Linked DNA regions of Homo sapiens. The protein of the gene in region 1 interacts with the protein of each later gene in a biochemical or structural test. Each region holds a gene or a part of one and is shown in the gene's direction. Other genes may lie near its edges.

What was found.
Region 2: the proteins of CTBP2 (region 1) and KLF3 form a complex in vitro, tested with the Homo sapiens proteins (one study listed by BioGRID).
Region 3: the proteins of CTBP2 (region 1) and KLF8 form a complex in vitro, tested with the Homo sapiens proteins (one study listed by BioGRID).
Region 4: the proteins of CTBP2 (region 1) and ZNF750 interact in far-western blotting, tested with the Homo sapiens proteins (one study listed by BioGRID).

Annotation. Positions count from the first base shown.
Region 1 is NC_000010.11:125,150,540-125,157,563, reverse strand, and holds part of CTBP2 (C-terminal-binding protein 2), read left to right. Parts: intron 1-5,282; exon of another isoform or gene 5,283-5,358; intron 5,359-5,729; exon of another isoform or gene 5,730-5,790; intron 5,791-7,024. UniProt on the Homo sapiens protein: Corepressor targeting diverse transcription regulators. Functions in brown adipose tissue (BAT) differentiation. Isoform 2 probably acts as a scaffold for specialized synapses.
Region 2 is NC_000004.12:38,674,185-38,681,208, forward strand, and holds part of KLF3 (Krueppel-like factor 3), read left to right. Parts: intron 1-6,402; 5' UTR 6,403-6,441; coding exon 6,442-6,498; intron 6,499-7,024. UniProt on the Homo sapiens protein: Binds to the CACCC box of erythroid cell-expressed genes. May play a role in hematopoiesis.
Region 3 is NC_000023.11:56,263,340-56,270,363, forward strand, and holds part of KLF8 (Krueppel-like factor 8), read left to right. Parts: intron 1-1,840; coding exon 1,841-2,405; exon of another isoform or gene 2,406-5,573; coding exon of another isoform or gene 5,574-5,614; exon of another isoform or gene 5,615-6,038; coding exon 6,039-6,150; intron 6,151-6,842; coding exon 6,843-6,982; intron 6,983-7,024. UniProt on the Homo sapiens protein: Transcriptional repressor and activator. Binds to CACCC-boxes promoter elements. Also binds the GT-box of cyclin D1 promoter and mediates cell cycle progression at G(1) phase as a downstream target of focal adhesion kinase (FAK).
Region 4 is NC_000017.11:82,837,018-82,845,035, reverse strand, and holds the start of ZNF750 (zinc finger protein 750), read left to right. Parts: upstream 1-5,013; 5' UTR 5,014-5,109; intron 5,110-8,018. UniProt on the Homo sapiens protein: Transcription factor involved in epidermis differentiation. Required for terminal epidermal differentiation: acts downstream of p63/TP63 and activates expression of late epidermal differentiation genes.

The DNA of each region.
Region 1 (7,024 bases):
TAGGGGACCCCAGTTACATCCCTGTGGAAAGCAGTTATTAGAGGGAATTAAAAGATCTTGGGTTTGGAGCTTGTTTTGAACCTGACTAGGTGGTTTGGGTTTAATTCTTTTTCCTGTTCAGAAAGATAAGGTAAAGAATACCGACTCCCCCCCGCTCTTTTTTTTTTTTTAACCCCCACCTGACAACCCCCTCTCTAATTGTACCTTAATAAGAGTCTGCAGGTTGAATGCAGAACCCTGTGAGTTATTTACGGTTTCGCCTGGGAGCTTTGAAACTGACCCTTGAATGGGTGTTCTCCTGCGGGGAGGGGCAGGGTGAATTACCTTTTCTTAACTGATTTTAAAAAGCCTCATTGTCCCTAAAAATCATTTCCTTGCACGAGTTGCAATTTATGTGTGGAACTGAATCATCAATTCCGTGAAGAGAAAGATATTCGTAAAGTACATCTCTCTAAAGTTAAGAAAGTAAGAACGTTTGGCTAGTTAAAAACAAACACTACTGCCATTGTAAAAAACACGCCAGTGACATACTTGGTGAGATATTTTGGCCTTTTGAGAGTCGGGGCACACCTGTTCCTGTCCCTGCCAAGTTGTGTGTGCTTTCCCTGCCATTGTTAATCTGGTCGTGTACACAAGATGAAACGGTAAAACTTGCTATCTGTATAATTATTAACTAGTTTGTCAGTTACCCTTTCAGAGAATAATCAATAACTTCAGTCTTAACTTTTAAAACTCCAGAAATTTTACTTTTTAAGTCTGGAAAATGTTTCAAAGAGAGATTAAATGAAACAAACAAACAGCAACAACAAACAACAAAACCAGAAAATCAACCTACAACTTTTTAGTTTCTGAGTAGCCAGCTACAAGGCAAAGAAATGATGAATATATATAGTATGTACTGAACAAGCAGTGCACTGGATTTTAAAATGATATTTTTATTGTTACCATTGCTGTTAAAATACAAACAGCTCACACTATTTGAAATCCTTGAGATTCACGGATTGAAAAAAAACCGAAAAGGACACCTCTGAGTGAGGGAGTAGCCCTGCTGAGATCTAGCACCAGAATGCCATTTGCCAACAGTTCACTAACATCATGAATCATTTTTGAAAGCAAAGTTATACCCTTTGCACTTAACGCTTTCCCTAAATGGAAAAAATTTAAAGAGTTTACAGCAATGGTAGAATGGCAGCCCCAGTTGTCATTTTTTTACCACTGTCATTTCCATAGAGAGGGGCTGTCATCATAATGTATGTGCATGCAGCCTGGGTCCCTCTGTTAATCTATCAGGGAAAAGCAGCAGCCCTAGTGTCCTGTGGCCCTGAATCAGGCCACAAATATATATTCATACAGCACATGGTTGGGAAGGGAAATTTATCAGTTGGGCAGGGCACAGCTCAGGTAATATTTCCACTTTGGGATGGTAGGTCTGTTACACAGGGTGGAACATATTTTTGTAGTAACTAAAAAATGGGAGGGCAGTGTGTCTGTCCCTGGAAAAAGAAGTATTTGTACTTAATGGAAGTGACCCATGTGGTGAAATCTCGGGGTGTCTTTTCCCCAGCAATCTTTCTATGAATTGCTAGGGGAGGAATGCTTGTGTGAACTTACCCTGCTGAAAACTTTTAGTGGGCACATGAAATGCTGGAATGGATACACTTTTAGAGACTGTGCGGCCTGGCAGATATCAGTTTTCTCCCTTACAGCTGGTAAGCATGTCTTAATTTACGCTGCTGCAAGTTAAAGTTACAGCACTCCTGGAAAGAAGGGAAAATGCAAGGCTTCTCCTCCCCACCTCATCTTTTGAAGTTAATTTTCATTCAAGTCTGTGTTTGATGGAATATGTATCAAAGACTTATGAAAGAGTTTTTTTTTTTTTAATCCTATCTTGGGGTTTGGAAAATTATATTTAATAATTGCTAAAAACTTAAGAACCATTTTAAAGGTGTTCAGTGGCCCTTTTGATCATGATTTAATGGAGAGTATCCAAAAGCCATCAGTGTGACTCTAATGATATTCACAAATTAATGTTTGGGCATAATCTGGAGTTTGCTTTTAGCTATCATTATTAATGTTTAAAGCCTAAATTATGGCTGCACTTGGGCATTCAGAACTTCGCCTGTGAAAAGAAGGGCTTTGCACATTGTGTAAAAAAAAAAAGGGGGGATTCACAAATGAATACAGAATGTACAATAGGGAGAGAGCCAGGCCATTGTTTGTGTGGAATGTTGACCATGGGAGCCAAGGGCTAGTTTCGCCTTCATTCTTCTGACTGCTGGAGAACACAGAAACTTCAGGAGCTGTGGACGGGATGGGAACCAGGGGCACATTCATCCGTCTTTGCCGGGCATGGAGATTTGGCCTGCCCCCTTTCCAGAGTTTTTCTTAGAAGGTGGTCTTTTCTGGACTGCTAAGGAACGTCGTGTGCTTTCTCTTCTCAGTAATCTGCTTTTTTGAGGAACGATTTTAACGGCAGATAGTAAGAGTTCCTCAAGGAAAGTAAACAGACCTTTTCTACCCCCTCGAAATGTGATTTTAGGAAATGATATTCAACTTCAGAAAGGAGGCATCTTAAGTCACAGGAGGAAGTTGTGTTTATTTTTACTCCTCTCCTGACTTTAAAGTAGTTTTTAATCTGTTGGTAGCATTAGGGAGAATGCAGCTAAAATAAGTTTTTGCTGGATGTTCATGTTTTGCGTAGCTGCTGCCATTTCGGAAAAAGCTCCTCCCCCATTCACAAAGCCCTTCTCCTTCCACGTGGGAGCCGAGGTCCCAAAGTGGAACCAACTCTGTAGCTTAAGGGAGGTGCATTCCTGGCCCCTCACTTTCTAACCCTCACCTTAAGTGGAATATGTAGATAATATGTAGATCATTAACCATTGTTGGTGTCTGAAGCCTGTTCAGTTTTTTTAGCAACGACACTCGGTGAGAACCAGTTGTAGTTTGCATGTGTATATGCCTAGTCCCTCCCTCAGTGAATGTTTTAGAAAGTGATCTGCTTTAGCTGTTTACCTAACTAAATTTAACAGATGGTTGCCTAGAGTTGGCTTAATATTCACAAAAATTGTGATGAAATGGTTGGGATCTTATGAATGGGACAAGTGATGATTTTGTTTCTATAGAGAATTGTGACTTTTGTCCTAGGTAATAATAGAGACTTCGTTTTTCCCAAAGATCGGTTGGTGTTTAAAGGATGGGAACCCTGAATAGCTGCTGTTGTCTGCCCCTGATCCTGGTGGTGGCCAGCCTTGCCTTTGGTTTTGTTGCCTTCTGTGAGTCCAGAAAAGCCCTGGAGGCAGGGGTGAGGGGGGAGAGGGAGGGCTGGGCTTTTCATCCGTGGGGTTCTAAAAATCCTTCTCATTTATAAAATACAAAAATACTTACCTTCCATTGTATTGCTGATTTGTGCTTCCTCCAAAGCTCTCCTCTGATCAGCAGAAATGTGCTTCTTGCATTAAAACAAATCCTTAATTATGACTAAAAGAAACTGTCAGCTGCCTTAAAGATTGTCTGGAAATAGTGGCAATATTTCTGTGTCTCATTCCAGCCCACGTTGTGGCAGAAGCCTGGAAGGGCCACGTTAAAGGATGTGTCACAGAGACAGTGTGTGTAGGTCTTCCTGCAGCACAAGCAAGCTCAGGGCTTGTAAAGTCCAGCTTATCGTGGCTGTGCTCCAGCCATGCCTGAAATCTGGCCTCCAGCAATCTGTCCCGTCCCAGGACAAACAAAAACTTTATTATGGAGTCATGGAACCTGAGGAAGTTTCTCTGGAAGGAACCGAAGACCTAGACCGTGGAGGGAGATCAACTCCTCTGGCCTAATGGGGCTTTTCTTTTTCCAAGATGGAATTTAAAAATCTCATCTATAAAATGAGGCTAGCAAAGAATCATTTTATGGTGTAAGTGGCCAGAATCTAACCTGGAAGTGATAGTATTGTACCTGCCGCAGGTGTGTGTGTGGCAGCGGGAGGGTGGAGAGGGGAAATGAGAGGAGAAGAGTTTGGAGGGGAAAACAGAGCATTCGAGGTTTCTCTGCTGGAGGGGGTGAAAGGCCAGGAGTTTGTGCACCTTTCCTTTTAAATGAGCTCTAGCTGTGAGTTTATTATTTTGCTGATGGATGGTCTTTCGTGCAGTCTAGAAGTGCAAACACAGTCGGCTTATCCGCTGCTTGTTCAGGTCCAGGGAGACCAAGGGAACGGGTGGGGGCAGTGCTTGCAAATCCATCTGGATCCTGGACACCCCACTTGGTGTTGCTGCAGCCAGCTCCCAGGCCTGCCCACCTGGAGTACAGCCAGCGCCAGCAGCGGGCAGGGCCCGAGAGAGCTCTTAAAGCCATGTCCCAGGAACGGTTGAGGGAACTGAGAATGTTCAGCCTGGAGTGGAGACACCCCTGGGAAGCCCAACATTGTCCTCTGTGCGGTCATGTGGCCTTACTCTGCTCGGAACAGGGAGGCCTTGCTGTTGGAGCTGCCGGGCCAGATGGGCTGCGTGGGCTCCTGGCACAGGCAGAACTTGGCTGACCATTGGCTCCCAGTGCCAGCCAAGGCTCTGCAAACACCCGAGACCCTGATGGAGACTCAGGCTTTGGGAGCACCTCCTAATGAGCTGGGGAGGATACTGTGTTTTCTTCCCAGTGGGGGGTGACCAATAATCTTAAAGTTTTTTCCCTTTCTCCAGACGTTCAGCTGTGGTCCGCACTCTGGATTGCTCTATCTGCCCTGCGGACTGGATAGAGGCTCAGCGTAGATGCCCAGCTGACCTGACATTTCCTACCCATATTTCCTAGTGTTTCAGGAGCAGGCAGAGACAGACCTGATTCCTTTATCTCGGGGCTTTCAGATTACGGAATAGAAGTCACACTAGGAGGGCAATCAATAAAGAGTATATTTTGCTGTACAGATACCAATATGCACATATAAGTGCCTACAAGTAAAATCTGGGAATGTTTTTGATCTTAAAAACATTTCACAGTCATTAATCTTCACGACGCTCCTGCGGGCTGGGTAAATAGAGCAATTCCTATTTTATGCCAGGAAGAAATATTGAATTGCCTCCCCCAAGTCATAAAGAGGCTGTTTTTCCTCCTTGTTCCTGTGACTCGCGGTGTGGGGGGCCTGGGGCGCCTGGAACCCCTGCGATCCGCTCAGACTGACTCCAGGACGACTTCCGGTGTCCTGCGCGACCTTCTGTTGCGGGGAGCGCCAGTCCGCCACACCTGGCCGCGCTCTACCTGGAGGGGGCGGGGTCTCCTGCATTTCCCGGACCGCGGGGGTGCCCCACCCTGCTGCAAGGACGGGCCTCCTGGCGTCCGGGCTTCTGGGGTCCCGGGGTCCCGGGGTTCCTGGCTCCCGAGCCCCAGGTGAAGCCCCCTCCATCCCTGGGGTTCGCCCCTCTCCTCCCGGCGGGTGGACCTGGAGGCCCCGCCCCCGCGGGCCAGAACACCTGGCGGCGCGGCCCCGCCCCAGCTGTGCCCTCTTCCCCCCGCAGGGCACTTGGCGGCCCCACCCTGGCCCCTCCGCGGGCCGCGGTATCTGACACCCCCGGGCCCCCCCACCTCGCGCCTCGCCTTTACACTTGTAAATGGAGCCGCTTCCCGCCGCGGGGAAGTCGTTGAGAGGTGTGAGAATGGGCCCTGCCCCCTCCCCCCGCTCCGTGCCCACTTCCTCCTTCCTCCCGCTGGCCTTTGTGCTGGGCGGGGCCGCTCGGACCCGGGGCGGCGGGGGTCCAGCTAGACGCCGCCTCAAGCCAGCAGGGTCGCCGGCCCCTCTCCGGTCCGCGAGGCCCCGGCAAGGTAGGAGCCTCGAGACCACGCGGGACACCAGGTTGGCCCCCAGCCCGCACTCGAGGCTCAGAGCAGGGGCGGGGACCTGGTTGCACCAGGCCAGAGCCGCCTCCACCCCGCAGCGGTCGCGGACTCCGGGCACTCATGGGGACTCCTGGGGTCGTGGTGAGTGGTGAGGTTCGTTGATTGACTGCGCGATGGTGGCTGAGTTGCAAGCAAACGGTAAACAGCGGCATCATTTCCACTTGACCGGCTTGGGATCTCGTCTCCTGGGCAGTGTTTGGGGGTGACCACGGTTCTTGGATAACCTTCGAATCTGGGTGTTTTCCTTGTAGTACAAATAGCGCAGTGGCAGTTGCTGTGGGAAACAGCGAGGGCCACTGAGACCTTCAGCAGAACTCCACGTCGAGGACGAGTGACATTTGCGCGCCTCTGCTGCGTTCTCTGCTGTTCACCCCGGCGGCTCCCAACACCTGAAGCCTGGCGAGGCATGTGACTAGAGGTTGTCCGAGCGCAGAGTGGTAGGACGGTGCGATCTGGCCCGTTTCGTCTTGCCCTCGTCTTCTCCATGGAGGAATTTCTGTGTTCGCCTCTATGTTTTGCAGACTTAATTTGGTGCTCCAGAAACTTATGCAGCCATTCAAGTGCGCTCTACCTGTTATTCAAGTAACTAGAGAGCAACCATTTCTTGAGCACTTACTTAGTGTCTGGCACTAGCTCGCTGGGCCATTGTGTGTTGTTGCGTTGCCCTGACTCTTCATTGGTAAAACAGTGACTAACTATCACCTGTGCCTCTGCGAGGACAGCGCTGTGCTTGGCCAGGGCTGGAGAGCCGATCTCAAGGCAGGTGTCTGGCCTTTTCCTGGACATAGTGAGTCTGTGATCCAGAGTCTGACCCACGTATTCAACGGGGCCTGCCTCAGGCTTCCAAACAGGAGCCAGGCTGTTGTGAATATTCACTCCAAAAGTGCAGTGAATGTAAAACATCCTAGAGCAGGAAGTGAGGCAGGCCCCGTTGAATACGTGGGTCAGACTCTGGATCACAGACTCACTATGTCCGGGAAAAGGCCAGACACCTGCCTTGAGATCGGCTCTCCAGCCCTGGCCAAGCACAGCGCTGTCCTCGCAGAGGCACAGGTGATAGTTAGTCACTGTTTTACCAATGAAGAGTCAGGGCCAGGGAGCTTAGGTAATTAAGTCTGGCTAGTTACTACCAACTTCGCCTGGCTCTGGCTTCTCTGTG
Region 2 (7,024 bases), on another chromosome or scaffold:
CAGTGCTTAGCTTTGTTTCAGGGAGCCTCCAGCTTAAAAATGCCTGCTGACATCTGTTGCCTGTCCCCTGTATTTCTGGCTAGGGCAACTGTCCTTAAATAATACTTGAGCCATTGGGGGATTTTGAAGAATTTGGGTAAAGAAACGAAGAGAGAAAAGTTTCTCTGGAAAGGAAGTTTAGCTACAGGGATGTTGCTTGCCTGCCCAGTTTTCCTAGCCAAGAATTACACACACACATGCACACACCGCCTTTTTTTTTTTTCTTTTTTTGCCTTAAGTTCCTTTGGGGAGTAAGGGTAGGGGAAGATAACATGTTTTCTCTTTGAAAAATCCAAAAACTTAGAAGAGTTGAAAGGGAGGCTTAGCGATGGTGTGTTAGTGTATTGCTCCGTATGCCTAGCCGAGGTCAGCTGGGAGACGGAAGTTTGCTTGGAGGAAGGCAGGTGATTTGGAGCCTCGGGGTCAGTCCTGGGTTGGGGAAGATAATGCAGGCACCCTTTGAGGATCTGTGGGAAGAAATGAGGGCATGGAGAAAGGAAGAAATAGGGAGATGAGAAGGGAGAACGTCAGAGGCAGGTCTTGCTCTAACCCCAAGAAACAGGAAACTGCTCCTGATACGTACACATTCTCTCTCCACCTTCCTCCTCCCTCAGGAAGGGGCAGGCAGTTGTCTGTAAGGTCGTTTCTGTAATAAATCATGCTCTAGCCTCCAGGCAAGCTGCTTTCAGAGGAGGTTTAGTAACCCCCTAACCTCGTCTTCCATGAAGGACTGTGTGTGTGTTTCTAAGCCCTGCAGCTCACCTGCAGCCCCGCTCCCCACTCCATAAAGCCATTGTGCATAGGTCTCAGACACCACTGGATAGGGCTCCAAAGCAGGACTGCATTACTTCTGAAACTTCATGTCAATGATTCACCAACCCTTTTAATCTATAATCACGCAGTCTTGCATTTTGACAGAAATTTGACCCTTATTTTAACATCTGAAAAGTCAGAAGTGCAGGTGGAAAGAGCATGAAGGGAAATCTGTTTCTCCTTTTTGAGGACCATTCATTTTTATTGGCCTTTCTCTGCAAAATAACACAGCTGGGGAAGATGGCATTTGCTCCAGTTATGGAAAATTATTTTGGCGGTGGTGATGTTCCTGTATATTTTTGCTTTTAAGCACCTCAATAACTTAGAATTTTTCATAAAAACAATTTTGCCCTTCCCCCCCCTTTTGGATGCAGTTTTGTTATCCTGGTATTGCTTAGTTTAGCATTAGAATGTATTTCTAAGACTAGCTAATGTATTTCTAAAGCTAGCTAAGCTAGTTAAATATAATGAAGATGTAAATGTGTTTATGATTGGAAAATAGTCGTCAGAAAAAAATAGAACCACATTTAGAGCCTCCTCTTCTCTGTGATACCCACATAAAATGATTAATAGAATTCCTGAGCCTGGTTAAAACCCACTAGGTTTAAAGACCCCGAGGTTGGCCAACTGGATTGATTTACTGCCGGTGTCCTGGTCTCTAATGCCTGTTTTAGTGCGCCACCTACTGGTTCTGCTTCAGATTGCCGTCAGTACTGTATGATAGATTTTCTAAGCATTTGTGGTTTACTTAGCATTCTTTCAGAATGGTAATAACCCCAGTGCACTGAGCCGCCCATGGGTACCAAAGACTGCCAAGTTTAGGGACCCTAATTCTTCCAGGGCTTAAGTTACTTCTCAGTTATGTGGAAGGCACTTTGAAGACTGTACAGTCACTCTTTTATGATTGTAGATCAGAACCTGTAAACAAATTAGTACCAATGACAAAAGTGGTCCCTGTAGTCAGAGATATGGGTGCAAAGTATAGAAATTTTTTGCAAATACATAAACAGAAGCCTCATTTCTGTTCATGTGTTTGATTCTGTTTCTAAATTTAGTTCCTTCCTAGCTTGGCTTCCCTATCTTGTCTTTGTTAAAAGTTTTGATTATGGAAATAATAAACTTGGCCGGGTGTAGTGGCTTACACCTGTAATCCCAGCACTTTGGGAGGCTGAGGCAGGCAGATCACTTGAGGTCAGGAGTTCGAGACCAGCCTAGCCAACATGGTGAAACCCCGTCTCTACTAAAAGTATAAAACTAAGCCAGGAGTGGTGGTGCATGCCTGTAATCCCAGCTACTCTGGAGGCTGAGGCAGAAGAATCCCTTGAACCCAGGAGGCAGAGGTTGCAGTGAGCCGAGATCGTTCCACTGCACTCCAGCCTGGGTGACAGAGTGGGACTCCATCTCAAAATAAAAATACATATAAATAATAAACTTTAAAAATAGAACACAGATGTGTAGAAAGCTGTCCCACCCACCGCCACTCCCAAGAAGCTCCTGTTAACAGTTTCGGGTGTGTGGTTCCAGACGTTTTCTTTGCATGTCCTTTATCTTCTTGTTTTATATCCTGTGACTATCACTAAAAGCATCATCATTTAAAAGCTATTATCAGAAGCTACCAAATTGGAAACAAAGTGCTTGTAGACATGTGAAATAGTGAGTTTGATTCTATTCTTTGTGATATTTGAATTTTGCACGGACTTTTTTTTTAATGTCCAGGGATGCATTATTTAGTTAGGAATTTCAAAAATAGGTATTCTAATCCTATCATTCCTTCTTTGTTTATTAACTTAAATACTTCTGTAATGAGAACATCCCTTCATCAACATTTGGATTACTTTGAGGTACATTTCTGGGCAAATAAACATACCCTTGTAATTATTTTTTAGTAAAAGCAAATCAGGTTCTGTTAGTGCCAGTGTGTTTTTTTTTTTTTTTTTTTTTGAGACCAGAGTTTCGCTTTTGTTGCCCAAGCTGAGTGCAGTGGTGCTATTTGGGCTCACTGCAACCTCCGCCTGCTGGGTTCAAGCGATTATACTGCCTCAGCCTCCCGAATAGCTGGGATTGCAGGTGTGCGCCACCACACCTGGCTAATTTGTTGTATGTTTAGTAGAAACGGGGTTTCACCACGTCGGCAAGGCTGGTCTCAATCTCCTATCCTCAGTGATCCACCCGCCTCGGCCTCCCAAAGTGCTGGAATTACAGGCATGAGCCACCACGCCCAGTCAGTGCCAGCGTTTTATACTAGACTATGTTTCTCTTAGGATTACAAGTCTTGCATTTCCTTAAACTTAGATAAAACAAAAAATTAAAGAACAATAGTGATTTAAATAATGTCTTAATGATAAAAAGATGTAGCACATTAATGTGTAATTCATTTCTAAAAGGATTCAGTAGTCGTTGCTGTGGGCATTAGACAAAGTCATTGAAAGCTATGTGAGCTAAATGGTAGACTTAGAATTTGAACGAAAAGGAACTCCAGAGCCCATCATCTTAATTTATTCTGCTGTGCTGCAATTAGTGGTCGTAAAGCGTGCAGGATGACATGAAGTGGGGAGATGCTGGCCTCGCTCAGAAGCTGTTGTTGCAGTGGTACAGTTGTGAAGTGACAAGGCCTTATATGAGACCTCATACAGGATGTAGGCAGCTGTTAACTTTGAAACTGAATCTAGTCAGAGTTTTATTTAAGGGTGGGGGATAGACCTCTAAGGCTAGTGTATGTTAGCAAAGAGGCAAACGCCAGACATTTTTGCTCCGGAAGTTGGAACCAACACATTTAGTGTTGTGTGTACAGAATATACATCCAGATTTTATGTGCATATGGATATAAATGAGGGCAAAAGGAGTGTGTGTGTGTGTGTGTGTGTGTGTGTGTGTGTGTGTTTTAATCTCACTTGATAGACCTAAATCCTTGAGAAGCAGATAGGGAGCCATGCTCTGCATTTTACAAATGATCACTCTTGCCCCATGGCTGCGTTAGTTTGCAGCCTGCTTGAGTCTCAAAACCATGGCTCCTTCCTTATACACCTGAGAATGTGAATGCTTTAATTTAGAAGCATTTGCATCAAGATACTCTCTAGTGGGATAGATGAGTCTGGAAGAGTGAATTCAGTGTAAAAAGCTGGGGGTGAGGAGGTGGGAGGCTGCCACAGGGTGACCAGCCGTGAGTCAGGGCTGCTAAATGATCTGACCTCATTGATGTAAGCAGGAGATCTCACATCTTTTGTTTATGGTCCACTGTGAGGCACTGGACAACAATTCTTAGAACCATGTTCATCCGTACAGCTGCTAGTCTGGGAACTGCTTAATAATAGATCCCAAGACACAAAAGCGTTTTCATCCCTCATTACGAAATCATCTATTTTTCACTGGCTGTTGCGGTTAGTTCTTGCTGGAATACATAAGAGGGTAGTAGCACTATTGATTTGAGCAGCTTGGTATCAAATTGTGTTTGCAGATTACAATACACCCTGTGATGGAGGAAAATATAATTTTGAAGTCAAGGCCTTATGTCGAGTTATTGATGAAATTCGTGTGTTGTCATGAGATTCAAAACAGGCTTTCTTCAATGAATCAACGAAGCACAAGAACGACATAGTATCACTTCCATCATTGTATATGAAGATATCTTAGTATAACCCGTAGAGCACCAACACAACAAATTATAGGATTGCTATCATGGAGGTGGGGATGGGGGTTTTTAACACTGAAATACAAGAAGGAATCCAGAACCCGGGATTCCTGCAGCTTCTTCAGCTGGAACTCACTCTAGAACTTGTTCACTTTGCCACTCAAACCAGGGTGATCTATGAAGACCTTACCTCTAACCAAAGCACTGAGCACTTAAACCAAATTTGGCTAATGAGTGCCTGAAGTCGATTTCTGAAAGTGTGTCTAGTAGCAGGACAGTGTTTCTGTAACTGAGGAGACACATTTGAACATTGAGCAGACTGAATATTTTGTCCTGTGAAGAAGCAGTTGGCTTGATGTAGATTAGTGTTAGAAGTGGACTGTACAGAACACAGAAGAAAATAGAAGGGATGGCAAGCAGAGAACAACAGAAGAAAAAGACAGGACAGGATCAAGGTGGACATTTCCTTTACAATAGGCTCATTTCCTAATGAGGAGAAATCTGAGTGAAAACAAGCTAATATTCTTCATATGTGAAAAGTGCTTAGAAAACAATAAGAAGTGGTGGAGGCTGTCAAGCCCTAAGTAGGCATTTCTCAAAAGAAGAAATCCAAATGGTCAATAGAGCTGAAAAAAAATAACTTCAATAACCAAATCAATTTAGAATAAAAATCATTTGCCATCTTGAGACTTAACAAGTTGGCAAGGTGTTTATCTTTTATAACACAAGTGATAACACATGTTGCTGGTGGAGGTTTGGGGAAACAGGTTGTATTTTATTAATGAAAATAATAGTTCGTCTTTGCCAGGTGATGGCATCAGGCGCTTTGGGAAATGTATATACTTCTCACCCAGGAATTCCCCTACAGAAAACTTATCCTAAAAATTAATGGTGTGCAGGAGGATATATTTAAAGAGGCTCATTGCTGTTCGTAATGGCGAAAACTTAGAAGCAACCCTAAGTGCCTAATAAAGAGGAAGAAGTTAAGTAAACTGATGTGTTCACACAGTGGCACGGGGGATTTGATGGTGCAGAACCATACTTGGTGCAGAACCATACTTACTGTAAAAGAAACATTTTCACATAAATTGTTCAGTGAAATGATAGGTACTAAATACCATGTACACTATGAGCCCAGTTTTAAAGAGGGTTTGTTAGAATAAAAATGAAATTTTAATGATGGTTGGTTCTAGGTTTTCTTTTTGCTCGTCTTTTTTTCCCCTAATTTTTCTGCGACCAACATCGGGGAAAAGGGAAGGTGTTTAACGGTCATATGTAATCTGAACCCCTAAAGAGTTGCACGGCAATCCCAAGCAAGCTTTGGCGCTCAGAAGGGGCTGTACATAGTGTTCCAGAAAAGTCAGGGTTTCTGTATTGAGTTAGAAATGCTGGTTGGCTCTCATCTGGTTATGACCATGGAGTCTGGTTTTAATTATGTAAATGGCATCTTTCATAGGTAAGGGAAACAAATTCCAGCCATTCCAGGGGTAGGGGAGAAAAAGGAGTAGAGAAGTGGGGTGAGGTATTATATTTCATTTTATTATTTATTTATTTATGTTTTTTTTTTGAGGTAGTGCCTCGCTCCATCACCCAGGCTGGAGTGCAGCGGTGCCATTTCGGCTCACTGCAACCTCCGCCTCCTGGGTTCAAGCGATTCTCCTGCCTCAGCCTTCCGAGTAGCTGGGATTATAGACGAGTGCCATCACGCCCAGCTAATTTTTGCATTTTTAGTGGAGACGGGGTTTCACCATGTTGGCCAGGCTGGTCTTGAACTCCTGACCTCAGGCGATCCGTCTGCCTCAGCCTCTCAAAGTGCTGGGATTACAGGGGTGAGCCACCTTGCCCAGGCTATATTTTATTTTTACTAGTTTGTATTTAAAGTAACCTTGAGACTTAGATGGATACCTTGTTTTGTTTTCTAGGCCAAACACCAGAGCACCCTAGAAGGTTTAACTAAAAGAATGCTCATGTTTGACCCAGTTCCTGTCAAGCAAGAGGCCATGGACCCTGTCTCAGTGGTAAGTTTTCCAAGATTGAACACCTCGCCTTATTTTTTCCAAGTGATGATAACATTATTGTGTGTTGAATTATTCCTTGAAATCATGGCCGGGCGTGGTGGCTCACGCCTGTAATCCCAGCACTTTGGGAGACCGAGGCGGGAGGATCACCTGAGGTCGGGAGTTTGAGACCAGCCTGACCAACATGAAGAAACCCCGTCTCTACTAAAAATACCAAATTAGCCGGGCGTGGTGGCACATGCCTGTAATCCCAGCTACTCGGGAGGCTGAGGCAGGAGAGTCGCTTGAACCCGGGAGATGTAGGTTACAGTGAGCCGAGATAGCAGAGATCGCACCATTGCACTCCAGCCTGGGCAACAAGAGCGAAAGTCCGTCTCAAAAAAAAAAAAAAAATCACTCATTGCTTGACAGGCATTTCATAGGCAAACTTTTCTCAACGCCACCAGGTATGAGTGAGCTAAATACTGTCCTAGCAGCTGTGGATCCTTTAAATGGGATCTGCGCTTCCTTAAGACCCGTGCCCGGT
Region 3 (7,024 bases), on another chromosome or scaffold:
AGTTGGGATAGGTGCTGGCAAATCAAGAAACCAAGAGTGTTGTAGCATAAAAGAAGGGAAAAGAAGATGGCAGTCTGGCCAAATTCTGGAGACAAAGCACGGATGGGTTTTTGGTGCCGTTACTCATTCCCAGCCTGCTCTGAGCATTGTTGTCATGTGTTTTTGACGCAGAGTCTTGCTCTGTCACCCAGACTGGAGTGCAGTGGTGTGATTATAGATCACTGCAGCGCTCTGAGGGTTTTTAAAATAAAGTCAGAGCAAGAAGACACTGCCTCCCCTGCCACTTATTGCTCTCTGAATTCAGACCCTTATTATCTCTCACCTAAATTTTAAAAAATCATAAGCATAACATAATTATCACACCTTAAAATTAACTAATTCATTAATATTGTCCAATATCCAGTCAATACTCAAATATTTTTACATGTCTCATCGAGATTTTTCCACTTGCTTTCTTTTGAATGTCTTTGAATCTAGTTTTATTCCTCTTTCAATCAATCTTCATTAAGAAGCTAGTTAAATCTCACAGAAATAGTTCTTCCCTTGTTACTCCTCTCTTCCAAACAATTATCTTCTATCACCCAACCTTTCATTGAACTCTACCTTTCCTCATCTTCCAAATATACAAAACTAAAAGTGGTTATGTTTTATATAAAGGATGTATTCCTTAACATTTTTCATAATTTAAAACTCCCATAATTCAAGTATCATGCTGATAGATAATGGAAGCTTGTTTGTTTACTGGCTAAAGAGGTGGTACCACCATCTCCAAAATCATCTTCAAGATCCAGAGTGTTGCTTGGCAGTGGCATACACAGTTCATTATATCCTTGACCTTTGAATTCATGGAATTCTTAGAAAGTTTTTAATTAGGTTGAGGCTTTATTTCATATATTACATATAAATGATCATTTATTAGTTTTTTAAAAAAAGTATTAGTTTTTTATTAAAAACTATTAGTTTTTTAAACTAATAAATGTATTTATTAGTTTTTTAAACTAATGTATTTATTGGTTTTTTAAACTAATAAATGTATTTATTGGTTTTTTAAACTAATAAATGTATTTATTGGTTTTTTAAACTAATAAATTGGTTTTTTAAACTAATAAATTTATTTATTAGTTTAAATCATTTATGATCATTTAGATCATTTATTAGTTTTTTTTAAAAATCCCAGAATTAAAAAGTTGCAGAGTTCAATTTTGCATATAATACAACTAACTGTATTGCAAGTTTATTTCATAGTTTATTCTATAATTATACTGTCTGTTGTTATGGCTCTATAGACAGGAATATCTTTCTTATCTCTTATCTGCCTAGAAAATTTCTATTAATTTTCTATGACTCAGCTGAAATATCACCTCCTCCTTGAAGCCTTCCCTTTCTAGTCAGAATGAGTCATTCCCTTTTGTTTTTCTAAAACGCCTTGCTTGTATGCCTGTTACATTATTTATTATGGTATGATTTATAAACTATTCACATTATTCTATCATTATATTTAATATGTTGGTATGTACTTATTGGCTGTACTTTATTGATGTGTGCTGCCACTGAGCTTATAGTAGATGCTCAGAAAGTGTTGACTTTAAATAATTTTGCAAGATTATTGTGAACGTTAAATGAAATAATTTTTAACAATTGCCGGATACAGTACCTGGTACTTACAGATAGTAAAGTTTCCCGTCTGTTTTTCTCTTTAGTTTACTCCTGCCTTATTTCTCCCAGCACCATGTATTCCTTCCATGTGAAATGAATAGAGATTTCTTTTTTACATTGCTTGCATGTCTCTTCAGGGTACTAACACTGACTTATGCATCTCTCATTTGTTTATTTATTTAAGGTCACTGCTTCTGTTCGGAACAGAGATCCCCCTGAGATAGAATACAGAAGTAATATGACTTCTCCAACACTCCTGGATGCCAACCCCATGGAGAACCCAGCACTGTTTAATGACATCAAGATTGAGCCCCCAGAAGAACTTTTGGCTAGTGATTTCAGCCTGCCCCAAGTGGAACCAGTTGACCTCTCCTTTCACAAGCCCAAGGCTCCTCTCCAGCCTGCTAGCATGCTACAAGCTCCAATACGTCCCCCCAAGCCACAGTCTTCTCCCCAGACCCTTGTGGTGTCCACGTCAACATCTGACATGAGCACTTCAGCAAACATTCCTACTGTTCTGACCCCAGGCTCTGTCCTGACCTCCTCTCAGAGCACTGGTAGCCAGCAGATCTTACATGTCATTCACACTATCCCCTCAGTCAGTCTGCCAAATAAGATGGGTGGCCTGAAGACCATCCCAGTGGTAGTGCAGTCTCTGCCCATGGTGTATACTACTTTGCCTGCAGATGGGGGCCCTGCAGCCATTACAGTCCCACTCATTGGAGGAGATGGTAAAAATGCTGGATCAGGTAAGTAACAATATTGCCTCTTTCCTGGCCTTCCTGAATCTATTCCCTTTTAGAGTCATCCTATCTCCTGTCTCTTTTCACTTCCTCCAATTATTCTTGCACACTGCTTCAAGAGTAATCTTTCAAAAGTACTGTTTTTTATGTCTTTTTAATGCTTAAGAATGTACAATGAGTCTTGATTAGACCATGCTTCTCAAACAAGTACAAGTATGCATATCTATCAGTGACATATCAAACAACTTCCTGGAACTTCCACATTATTTGATATTAAATAATTTAAGCATTTTATATTTAAAATATGATTATCTTGTATTACAAAATGCAAAATTTAAAAACCTGTTAAGATAAACCACATGCTTCAAAAATAGTTGAAGCTTACTAAAGGCATCCACCCTCGGACTTTTCAGGAGAATGTGTTTATTTTATGCCATTCAGAATGCTTTGGTGGGAAAGTTGAGAACAATATTTCTATCTCAAACATACTTAGCCAGTATTAGCTCCTGCCTCTACCAATACTTTCCCTTTTCTCTTCCCTACAAAAGAAGTAATTGAAATATTGTCATCTTCCCTGTGTTCTTCCTCATTTGGCATCTATCACTTTCCATTTTACTTATTTATTTGCCTGTATCACAAGAGTTTGGGCATTATTCACAACTGAATTGTAAATTCCTGAAAAATAATACTCTATCTTAATTTTTTTATGTATGCCTCCAGAGAACTTAACACAGTGCTAGGAGTTGTCTTGCAACAGATAATTTGATGAACAAACAAACTTGAAAATTTGTCCAAGAGAGAATTCAAATGCTATAATCTTCCATTTTATTTTATTTTTAAAATAAGTTCAGAATTCAGAAAGGTATAAATTAAGTCTCTCTTCCACCACTATCCCCCAACCACTAGTTTTCCTCCCAGAGGTATATCTGTTTTAGTTTGTAATCAGGAATGATCAAGGAAAATTATGTGGCCTCTAAAGCAGGCTGATAATGTTTTGCATAAATCGGAAAGGCCAAGGGGTGGAAATGACTAGGAAGCAGATTTCAGCTTACTGTAAAAGAGTATCTACCCTTGAAATTTGATGCCCTGTACTAAATGTAGGAGGCTGAAAAACAACATACTACTAAGCATCAAGTTGCTGAGACTCTGCACTGGTCTTCTGAATACAAATATTATTATTGACTAGTGGTTAATTGTGGTAATGATAAGTGTTCATAATCTTATTTTGAGATGTGATATCCATTCCATATATGAAGGGAGAGCCAAACAAACAAACCAAAAAAAGGAAACAAACAAAAAAGGAAATAAAATTCCTCGTGTGACAGTTTATGCTGAGATAAAGGCAGTGGTAACATCAAAGGATGGTTTGAAGGAGCTTTGAATAGTCCCCATAATATCATCAGTCCATCAGAGCCACTCTAAATAAACAGGATAAATTTTAAATGTGCTCAATGTGGTTCCAAGCTAAGGGCATTGGCCCAATGGTGTCTGTATTAGTTCGTTTTCATGCTGCTGATAAAGACATACTCGAGACTGGGAAGAAAAAGAGGTTTAATTGGACTTACAGTTCCACATAGCTGGGGAGGCCTCAGAATCATGGTGGGAGGCAAAAGGCACTTCTTACATGGTGGCAGCAAGAGAAAAGGAAGAAAGAATAGCGGAAAGCCCTGATAAACCCATCAGATCTCATGAGACTTATTCACTATCATGAGAATAGCAGGGGAAAACTGGCCACCATGATTCAATTAACTCCTCCTGGGTCCCTCCCACAACATGTGGAAATTCTGAGAGATACAATTCAAGTTGAGATTTGGGTGGGGGCACAGCCAAACCACATCAGTATCCAAAATGGGGGGCTTACTAAACCTTAGGGGGCACATATAAAACAATTGGAGTGCAAGAAGAAAGTATCAAAATTTGTATTTTCTTACCCTTAAAAATTGACAGGTAATATTGTATGTTTTAATCATCTATAGCATGATGTTTTGAAGTACATATGCATTGTGGAATGGTTAAATCTAGCTAAATAATAAATGCATTACCTCATTATCATTTTTGTGGTGAGAGCACTTAATGTCCATTCTCTTTACAATTTTAATAAATAAAATGTATCATCATTAACTATACTTGCCTTGCTATACAATAGATCTCTTGAAATGTATTCCTCCTATCTAGCTATAATTACGTATCCTTTGACCAATATCTCCCCATCCCCCTCCCCACTAGCCACCCCAGCCTCTGGTAACTACCATTCTACTCTACTTGCATGAGATTAACTTTTTTAGATTCCACATATGAGTGAGATCATGCACTATTTGTCCTTCTGTGCCTGGCATATTTCACTTAACATAATGTCCTCCAGGTTCATCTATGCTCTCACAAATGGCAGGATTTTATTCTTTGTTATAACTGAATAATATTATATTGTATATATATATATGTCACATTTCATTTATTCATTCATTTGTTGATAGATATTTTAGGTTGGTTCCACATCTTGGCTGTTGTGAATAATGCTGCACTAAACAGGGATGCAGTTATCTTTTGGGCATGTGATTTTATTTCCTTTGGATATATACCCAGAAGGGAGATTGCCAGATCATACGGTAGTTCTAATTTTAAGTTTTTGAGGAACCTCCATACTATTTTCCATAAAGGCTATAACTAGTTTACATTCCCATCAACAGTGTGTAAGTGTTCCCTTTTCTCCACATACTCACCAGCACTTACTGTCTTTTGTCTTTTCGATAATAGTCACTCTAACTTAAGTGAGATGACATACTACTTTTTGTTTGTTTTCTTATAATGTATACAAAATTGTAGGATACCGATACATGTATATCACATACATGCACAAACATGCACACCTCAAGATACATGCTTAAAACTTTTTAGTGAATGATATGCAAAGTATAGAGACAACTCTTTTAACCAAATACTTGTTCCCCACCTTATCACCACCCCCAAGTTTCTTCTCTATAGAAATTTTGAAGGTTTCACTGGATCTAGGAGACTGTTGACCACCTGATTGAGTTTTTAGGAATTAGAAACATCAGGGGTTGATAATAAGGAATATTTGACAGCTTCTCCCAACATAGGTGGAAAGGAAGGTTGTATCAAGCACCTACTAGGTGGTAGGTATACGTTTCATCTCATTGACTTATTTCTGTTTAGGAGCACAAAGGCCAAGGTGGATGTTCTCACATCTGGACTAATCCTAGAATTTGATTTTAGGACAGCCAGGAGCTATTCAGTGAGTTCAATTCAACACACACACACACACACACACGTTGAAACTAACTTTTCAGCTGACCCTGTCCTGGTAGCTGGAGATAGAAAGATGAATCATACCCAGACCACATCCTAGAGACACTCTCATTTGATACCACTCATAGTGGTATCAGAACTCTTCATACTACTCTTACTTTAAAGGCATTTCTGTTCCCTGCTATGCAAAAAAAAAAAATAAAATGTTATTCTCTTCCTTCCATGCAAATACACTTCTTTCATCTTGTTTTTTATTTCTTTATTTTTCTGTCTTGCTGCCACTTCTTAAGGTGGGACAAACTGGGAATCCTGAAAATGATTAAAGAGGCACATACATCTTCAGCTCACACTGCTCCCTTTCTTTGCTTTTAGTGAAAGTTGACCCCACCTCCATGTCTCCACTGGAAATTCCAAGTGACAGTGAGGAGAGTACAATTGAGAGTGGATCCTCAGCCTTGCAGAGTCTGCAGGGACTACAGCAAGAGTGAGTACTTTTTGTCTTCAAGTCTGTCTTTGTGTATGTGTGTGTGTGTGTGTGTGTGTACATTTGCACATATGTATAGGTGGAACTAATGATCAGACACAAGAGTAAGAATTTGAGGACAAGAAATATAGGGAGACTGCCTTTCCAGTGAAAGTATATGAGTTTGTGTGCACACATGTGCATGTACATGCATGCTATAGTAGAGCTATGTTCTAACTGTAGATCATCAATTTTTCTTTTGAAAAATCTTCAAATTTCCCATAAAGTGTAGTTATGTACTGTTTCTCTCTGTAAGTTTAAAACAGCTTTGTCTTTCAATATTGAAACTAATTGGAAGTAGTTGGCTTGTGTTTAGCAACAACTGTTGTATGAAAAACAAATTTCTTTAAGCAGGAAAATGAAACTTATTGAAGTGAAATGCTCACACTGTTTGGGAACACAACCACTGAAGGAAACACTACCACCTCCCATGCTTTCTCTGAGCACCTACTGAGGGACCTGTACCTACTGAGCAGAATGGCCTAGTTGACAGAATTGTTTTTACTATTCCAATTATTTCTTTTTGGGGGGACCTAGCATTAAATTCACGTAAATTAAAAGCCGATATGATGTGGCACCAATGAATGTAAATTCATTTTTTTAGCCTTCACTTTAAAGTCACTGTTTGGCTTTATCTCTATTTCTTTGATCAGACCAGCAGCAATGGCCCAAATGCAGGGAGAAGAGTCGCTTGACTTGAAGAGAAGACGGATTCACCAATGTGACTTTGCAGGATGCAGCAAAGTGTACACCAAAAGCTCTCACCTGAAAGCTCACCGCAGAATCCATACAGGTCTGCCCACTCCCATCTCACCCCCAACACACACACACACAC
Region 4 (8,018 bases), on another chromosome or scaffold:
CACCCCAGGTACCCCTCCTTCCCCACCCAGGGAAGCACCCCCCACCTCTGGTGTAACTCTGCTCATCGCCCTCTGGGCTGGGTACCTCGGCCATGTTCCCGACCTGTGGGTGGGGGGACTCCACAGGCCAGGTGCGTGGTGCTTCTGAGTAAATGGACCAGTGCAGGTGATGCACCTGGCACGGTGCCCCACACCATCAACACGCAAGAAACATCAGCTGCCACCCCCATGACGGTTCCTAAGATTTGGTCAAAAACCTAATCGCAAGAATTCTGAGTAACACAGGGGGTTGAACATGTAAAAAATAGCGGGTAAAATCCCACTAAAAACAGCAGAAACGGACCATTTTCTTTTTTCAAGAAATAAGCTACAGGGTAGAAGAGGAAGGGCAGGGAAGGCAGCACCAGGACCACGGAGGAGCCTGGAAGTGCAGGGACAGCAGGAAATGCCTCAGACCAAGAAGCCCAGCCCTCCCCTGGAGGGAGGCAACTCAGACTCCCCCTGATCCACAGGACAGGTCCCTAAAAAGCTCCAGATCTGTGGCACCAGAGAACTCTGTGGGGAGGGGCAGGGTAGGCCTAACCCAAGGAGCACTGGGGCAGGAGACAGGGCTGACTCTCCGAGGTGCTCAGCAGAGGCCCTGGAAGGCAGGCAGCCACACTGACGATGCAGGGAGGGCACCAGGCATGGCATGGCGCTCCTGCAGTCCCAGCTACCCGGGAGGCTGAGGCAGGAGAAGCACTTGAGACCCGGAGTTCAAGTCCAGCCTGGGTAACACAGCAAGACCCCAGGTCTTTAAACACACACACACACACACACACACACACACGGAGAACATCCACCCCCACTCCTCCACTCCCCACTAAAAGAAAGCTATCACTAAAATCCTTAGATAAGAAAAGCTACTGAAAGTACTGCATGAGAATGAGATGCTACAAAAGGAACACTCAGAACAAAACAGAGCTCATGGAAACCAAAATCAGAAACCAAGTACTTAACAGAAGTGTTGAAATATAAAGTTAAGAAAACTAAGACTACTGAGGATAAAGGAAAGAACCTGCAGGTGAGAAACAGCTGTCCATAAAAATCAGGAATCACTACTGACATAAAATTCTACAACACATAAAACTAATCCATGGTGGAAAAGTATCAGCCTGCAGTTGCCACGGTCTGGGTGGGGAAGGGTGGCACTGCTGTGACGGAACTCTCTGGGGCCATAATGGGAGAACACATTTGTCAAAACTCGTTAAATGATCCTCTTAAGACCTGTGCCCTTCACTGAATGTAAACCTTACCTTTGAAAGAAGAATCATAAACTAATAAGAATATGCCTGAAAAGTGTTTGGGGCAAAGCATACTGATGTCTGCAACTGACCTGAAATGCAGCAAGACGATTAAGCTGGATGGGGAGGGGAAGGGAAGGGTAAGTAAGCTGGACGGGGAGGGGAAGGGAAGGGTAAGTAAGCTGGACGGGGAGGGGAAGGGAAGGGTAAGTAAGCTGGATGGTGAGGGGAAGGGAAGGGTAAGTAAGCTGGATGGTGAGGGGAAGGGAAGGGTAAGTAAGCTGGACGGGGAGGGGAAGGGAAGGGTATGTAAGCTGGATGGGGAGGGGAAAGGAAGGGTATATAAGCTGGACGGGGAGGGGAAGGGAATGATAAGTAAGCTGGACGGCGAGGGGAAGGGAAGGGTATGTAAGCTGGACGGGGAGGGGAGGGGAGGGGAAGGGAAGGGTAAGTAAGCTGGACAGGGAGGGGAAGGGAAGGGAACACAGACAGCTGTGTTAACTGGAGAACCCCACCGTTGGGCATATGAGAGTTCACTGGAGCATCCTTACAACTTGTCTGTATTTTGAAAATTTTCACACTAAAATGTTAAGAGAGAAAGAATCAGGAATCAGAATGGCATCAAGGTTCTCAACCACAGTACTAGAAGCTAGAGAAAATAGAGAACACTTGCGGCCGGGTGTGGTGGCTCACACCTGTAATCCTAGCACTTTGGGAGGCCGAGGCGGGCGGATCACGAGGTCAGGAGATCGAGACCATCCTGGCTAACACGGTGAAACCCCGTCTCTACTAAAAATACAAAAAATCAGCCGGACGTGGTGGAGGGCGCCTGTAGTCCCAGCTACTTGGGAGGCTGAGGCAAGAGAATGGCGTGAACATGGGAGGTGGAGTTTGCAGTGAGCCGAGATCGCGCCACTGCACTCCAGCCTGGGTGACAGAGCGAGATTCCATCTCAAAAAAAAAAAAAAAAAAGAAAGAAAGAAAATGAAGAACACTTGCAAAAATCTGAAGGTAAATGATTTCTGGCCTGAAATTCTAGACTCAGCCAAACTATCAGTGAGGTTGAAGAGTAGATAAAAACATTTTCAATAATTCAAGACCTCCAAAAAAATCTCTCTTGCACTTTCTCAAGAGCCTATAAAAGGTGTGTGCCTCATGTCAAACTAAATGATTAACTCAAGAGAAAGACGACATGGGATCCGAGCAGCAGGCCTTCCAGTGCAAGAGAGAGGCAGGCAAAACCCCCTGGGTGACGGGGAAGGCAGACATGGGGGCAGAAGGGGCAAAGAGAGGCAAATTCCCATCTTCCATGAAGGGAAGCCACCAAACAACACCTCGACCAGGAGTGGAGAAGGGAGAGAGGGGGAGAGAGGGCACAGAACCACCAACAGATCAGTAAGGCTGGAATCGAGGAGGTAAACACCCAGCCAGGCGCTGGGATAAGCTCCCTCCCTGCCGTCTCAGCTCCCAAGGAGGACCAGGGACAGAGACTCTCAGGAGCAGGGTAGAGGGTGGAAGGTACACAGATTCTCAAAGGCCTCACTGGACCCTCCATGGCAAGGGTCAGAACACTCAGCTTAGGAAAGGCCAAGGTGGGGCTTCCGGGCAGAGGGAGTCGTAGCGCAGACACCTGGCACTCCTGCCGCTGAGAGGTGGAGCCCTCGGCTCCCGCCTTGCATCTGGGCAGCACGAGGCTGCCTCAGCAGAGAAAGGTGACAGAAGGGACACCCTGACAATCTGCGGCCCAGCCTTCTGGAGGACTGGAACCTTCCGCCTTGCTCTCTTGAAGTCCTGAGCCATCATACAGCTGACCACCCTGCTAGGGAGGCCTCTGAAGTGCTACTAAGTGAGGATGAGGTTCCAGCTGATCTCAGGATTCCAGCTGCCCCTCCAGGACAGAAGGCAGGTGAGTAAAGCTGTCCTGGACCCTCCAGACCAGTCACCTGCCAGCTTTCTCCCACGGAGCCACCTCAGTCAGTGTCCATGAAACAGAAGCAGCACTCGGCCAGGCCCTCCACAAACTCCTGACACAATATATCCTAAGACGTAATAAAACGGTGCTTGTTTTAAGCCACTAAGTTTGGGATAGTTTGCTATCCAGGAATAGGTAAGAGGGACAGGGAACTGCTGTTTTTTGTCATAAGACTTACATAACTCTTTTTGACTTCATAAAGTATATGGATGTCTCAATGGACAAAAGCCACCAAAAAAAATTTTAAGGTATTAAACCATCCTAGGAAACATGGCAAAACCCTGTCTCTACAAAAAATTCTCCAGGCATAGTGACCGTGCCTGTAGTCCCAGCTACTGGGGAGACTGAGGCGGGAGGATCACTCGAGTCCAGGAGGTTGAGGCTACAGTGAACCGTGATCGCACCACTGCACTCCAGCTTGGGTGACAGGGCAAGACCCTGTCTCAAAAGAAAAAAAAAAGGAATTAAATATAAAAGTAAACGCAAAGCCATGTAAAATCTTAAGTCTTAAGGAAAAAAATAACAAAAACAAAAAAACAGACCGGGTGCAGTGGCTCACACCTGTAATCCAAGCACTTTGGGAGGCCGACGTGGGTGGATCACAAGGTCAGGAGATCAAGACCATCCTGGCTAACACGGTGAAACCCCATCTCTACTAAAAATACAAAAAATTAGCCGGGCGTGGTGGCAGGCGCCTGTAGTCCCAGCTACTCGGGAGGCTGAGGCAGGAGAAACGCAGTGAGCCAAGATCATGCCATTGCACTCCAGCCTGGGCAGCAACAGTGAAACTCTGTCTCAAAAAAAAAAAAAAAAAAAAAAAAAAAAACCAGTTTGTCTGTCCTGGCCAGCTCGTCCCTATGCCACAGCCCTGCAGCCTCTGCCCTGCAGCCTCAGGCTCATCCAAGGGCCTGACACCAGCTCATCCCACCTCCTTTCCCAGTCCTCAAACCGACACCACATGCCAGCCTTCGCTACAACTGGGGTGCGGCCTCCGATTAAGCAAGCAAGCAGTTTTGGTGGGGGGGTGTGGAGGTAAAAACTGGCCCCCAAGTTAAGTGCCTCTGCAATTTAAAGTGGGGGGAGGGTGGTTTGCGGGAGTGCACAGCTGGCCCCCTCCCCCGCACCCACACACCCTGCTCCGCAGCTCTTGCGGTGCCTGGTGTCGGGCAAGCTCCGGCAGGTCCCTGCAGCCAGGCTCTGGGATAAGCTCCCTCCCTGCCGGCTCAGCTCCTGAGGAGGACCAGGGACAGAGACTCTCAGGAGCAGGGTAGAGGGTGGAAGGTCCACAGATCCTCAAAGGCCTCACTGGACCTCATGGCAAGGACGCCATGAATACTGTGCCTCCCAGGGTATGCGCGCTTGAGAATCAATCCAAGTGTTTGCCTCCTGCGTACACATGCTCAAGTTCTAAAGGAAAGTCTCACATGTCTTTATCATGACGCCAAATATTCATCGGGTGTGATTCTGATGAATATAGTAATCTCTATTCTAACTGCGGACACATCGAAAGCCCTCTGACATATGGCCGTCCAGGCAGCACCGACGCCGCACTCACAGACAGTTGAGTCTGGAGACAGCGCTGGGAGTCGGCGAGATAACTTGCTTGCTGGGTCCAGTGCTGGGGAGGCTGCCCGCAGCAGCTCGGTGGGTGCAAACACATGAATCGTAGCTGCGGGCAGGAGGAATATCAGGTGCATCTCTACGCCCCGAGGGCTCAACTCCTACACTTAAATCCCTCCCACTGGAACAGCAGGCTCCAGTTTCACCCAGCAAGCGTGAGAACAGGTACTGCTTCCTGAGCACCGCCAGCCACCGGCACCAAGACCGGCCACATCCCAGCACTGCCCACCTCTGGTAAGTACTCACTATTTCTTTTCAAATTCAAGTTTTATTTTAAAACTCTTCTCAGACGTATCTAAAATACCCAGCTGAACGCAGCGTTTGCTCCGTGTCTGCTCTGCCTTGCTCTGGGCTCCGAGGATTACTCAGGACCCAGCAGGTGCATGGCTGGGATGCAGACCACGATTACAAAACTTCTAATGAGGCTGACACTTTATTCTAAGAACATGAACAAGCTTATCTGGAAATTAACTCCTTGTTCTGCCCTAAAATTCATAAAAGTTAAACCAACACAAATTCATATTATTGCTTAACTGCTCCTAACCTCAAAAACAAACTACAATAAATGCTAACAAGAGGTAAGGGTCATATATATATGTGTGGTGTATGTACATTAGGGTGAATTTAGGGTTATATGTGTGGTGTATGTACATTAGGGCTGAATTTAGGGTTATATATATGTGTGGTGTATGTACATTAGGCTGAATTTAGGGTTATATATGTGTGGTGTATGTACATTAGGGCTGAATTTAGGGTTATATATATGTGTGGTGTATGTACATTAGGCTGAATTTAGGGTTATATATATGTGTGTGTGGTATATGTACATTAGGCTGAATTTAGGGTTATATATGTGTGGTATAAGTACATCAGGCTGAATTTAGGGTTATATATATGTGTGGTGTATACACATTAGACACAGCTGAATTTAGGGTTATATGTTTGTGGTGTATGCACATTAGACAGTGCCGAATTTACTATCTAGTTTAACTTTTAATAGTTTTAAAGTTTAAAATAAGTACATAAGCTTACATGAAGTTTAAAATTGGGCATAAGCTTTCGAAAACAAAACCAAACCAAAGGGGTTAAGTTTCTGTTTGGTTGTTAAGGTCTTCTGTACATATAGACACAGATACAAAAGGGTTTTTTTCCTTATATGAAATTTCTCATAAACTTGATTTGGAGGAGAACAATTACTGACCAAGCACAGTCCGTCCACATCTGTGCCCCTAATTTTCACTGCGCATTAGCAAAGGCCTTCCAGCATTTCTGACCGGAGTTTCAGGATGAGGCGGCGACTGTAAAGTGGTGAGCGTTTGTTTACGAGCTCAGGTCTGTAACTCGGGATCTCCTGCCGAAACTAGAGTTAAGAGCCCCTGGTTGTTTTTCTGGATCCATTCTTCCAAATTACATTCCCAAAGACTGTCTTTTCCCCAGGTCTTGGTTGTCCTGAGGTTTATCTTTCATTTTAAAGAACCGAAAGGCTGGGAGGGAGTGGCAGTCAATCACTGGAAAAGCTCAATTGGAGTAAAACTCACAAATCTCGTTCTTGCGACATCACAGTGGGTAGGCGACAATGGTGTGTCCTTGAGTTATGCAACAACGCCACATCACAATATTGTAATTACAGCATGCCCTTCACAATGCTCCAGCCGAGCAGGCTCCTTGCCAGACAGCTGGACACCACCAAAAGGAACATTACAGCACAATCTCAGGGCACAGGTTAGGACGCATGACAAGCATAGTTACCCAGCCTGTCACAGAAACGTCCCATAAAGTTAAACTGTAATTACTTCCGCTGTGTCCTATCAAAGTTTTTTTTTTTAAGAACTCTTTCTCTTGTCTATTTTTCAAAGTTCAAACTCCTTAGAAGCTTGTTAAGCATCCCAACTTCTCACTATTACCCTAACAACTGTCTGCTGCATTAACTGTCCACACTTAGGAACCTTTGGAAAGACAGTATATTGGCAATTTAGACACAACCCCATGGCCAACCGAAACCACTCACTCTTCAAAGCACTGTCTGTGTGGGCAGCTACGCCCCAACACCCGGCCCAGTGCACGTTGAGCAGGAAGAGAAGCGAGCTCTCAGCTCAGCGCACTTTCCAGAAGCCAAGTGCATCGGCTGAGCACACAACATTTAAAATATTTAGAAAGGCACAGAGTGGCATCTGTAAATATGGCAAGAAAAGCCTGGTGAAAGCTCAGCTGGATCCTGAGCATGTTTGAAGCCACTGCACCCCACTGTTCTTACGCCCTTTAGTGTAGACACTGTCTACATTGGCTGCTTGATCTGAAATAACTTGGAGAAAGAAGGCTTTGTGCCAGGCCAGGCTCGGAGGAGGTGTGTTGGAGAAGAGGGCACACATTAGCCAGCAGCAGTCAGGGAAGACTCTGCATAAGTATTTCAGCAACAGCCACCTTTGATCCAGATCTGGAAGCTCTGTGGCATGTCCACCCTGCTAACGCTTCCTGCCGATCCAGTGGGAAATGAGAGGAGGATGAAACCCTCCTTCAGGATCACACCGAGGTCTTCACTGTAAAACACGCTAGCACTGCAGTTCTCAAATGAAAGCAGATAATGAATGAGACTCTGCTTTATTAACAGACAGACAGACAGCTCTCCGGGCATGTTATTAACTAAAATGGAAACACACCTCCCCCAGGAGAGAAAGACGCTCCGCACTTCTTTATCCCCTCTAGAGAAAAACTGCACCTCTAAATACAAATCCAAATTACTGTAAACAGCTAGATTTCTGGGTTACACTGTTTGGGCAACAACATACTCTTTTGGGAATATTTAACACCAGCAGCTGCCAGAGTACAAAGTCGGGCTGGTAGAAACTGACCACACAGAGACTATTTCAAACGCTGTGCCCACAGACAGCTGTGACAGCCTGAGGTACTGGCCGTCGGGTTTGGTTTCTTCATCCTTATAAACCTCACTTAAGCAGGACACAGAACTCACAGGCTGACATCATCATCATTTGAAAGCTTACCAAAGCAACAATGTTATCCCACTTACTTCTCTGACACTATTGTAGTTTTACAGATCAGGTGACCTACGCCCGGCTTACAACTGAAGCAGCTGTGCTCCCTGTTTTAATTAGCAAATTGTGCAAGCCTGAGAGGTCGGTTTATCC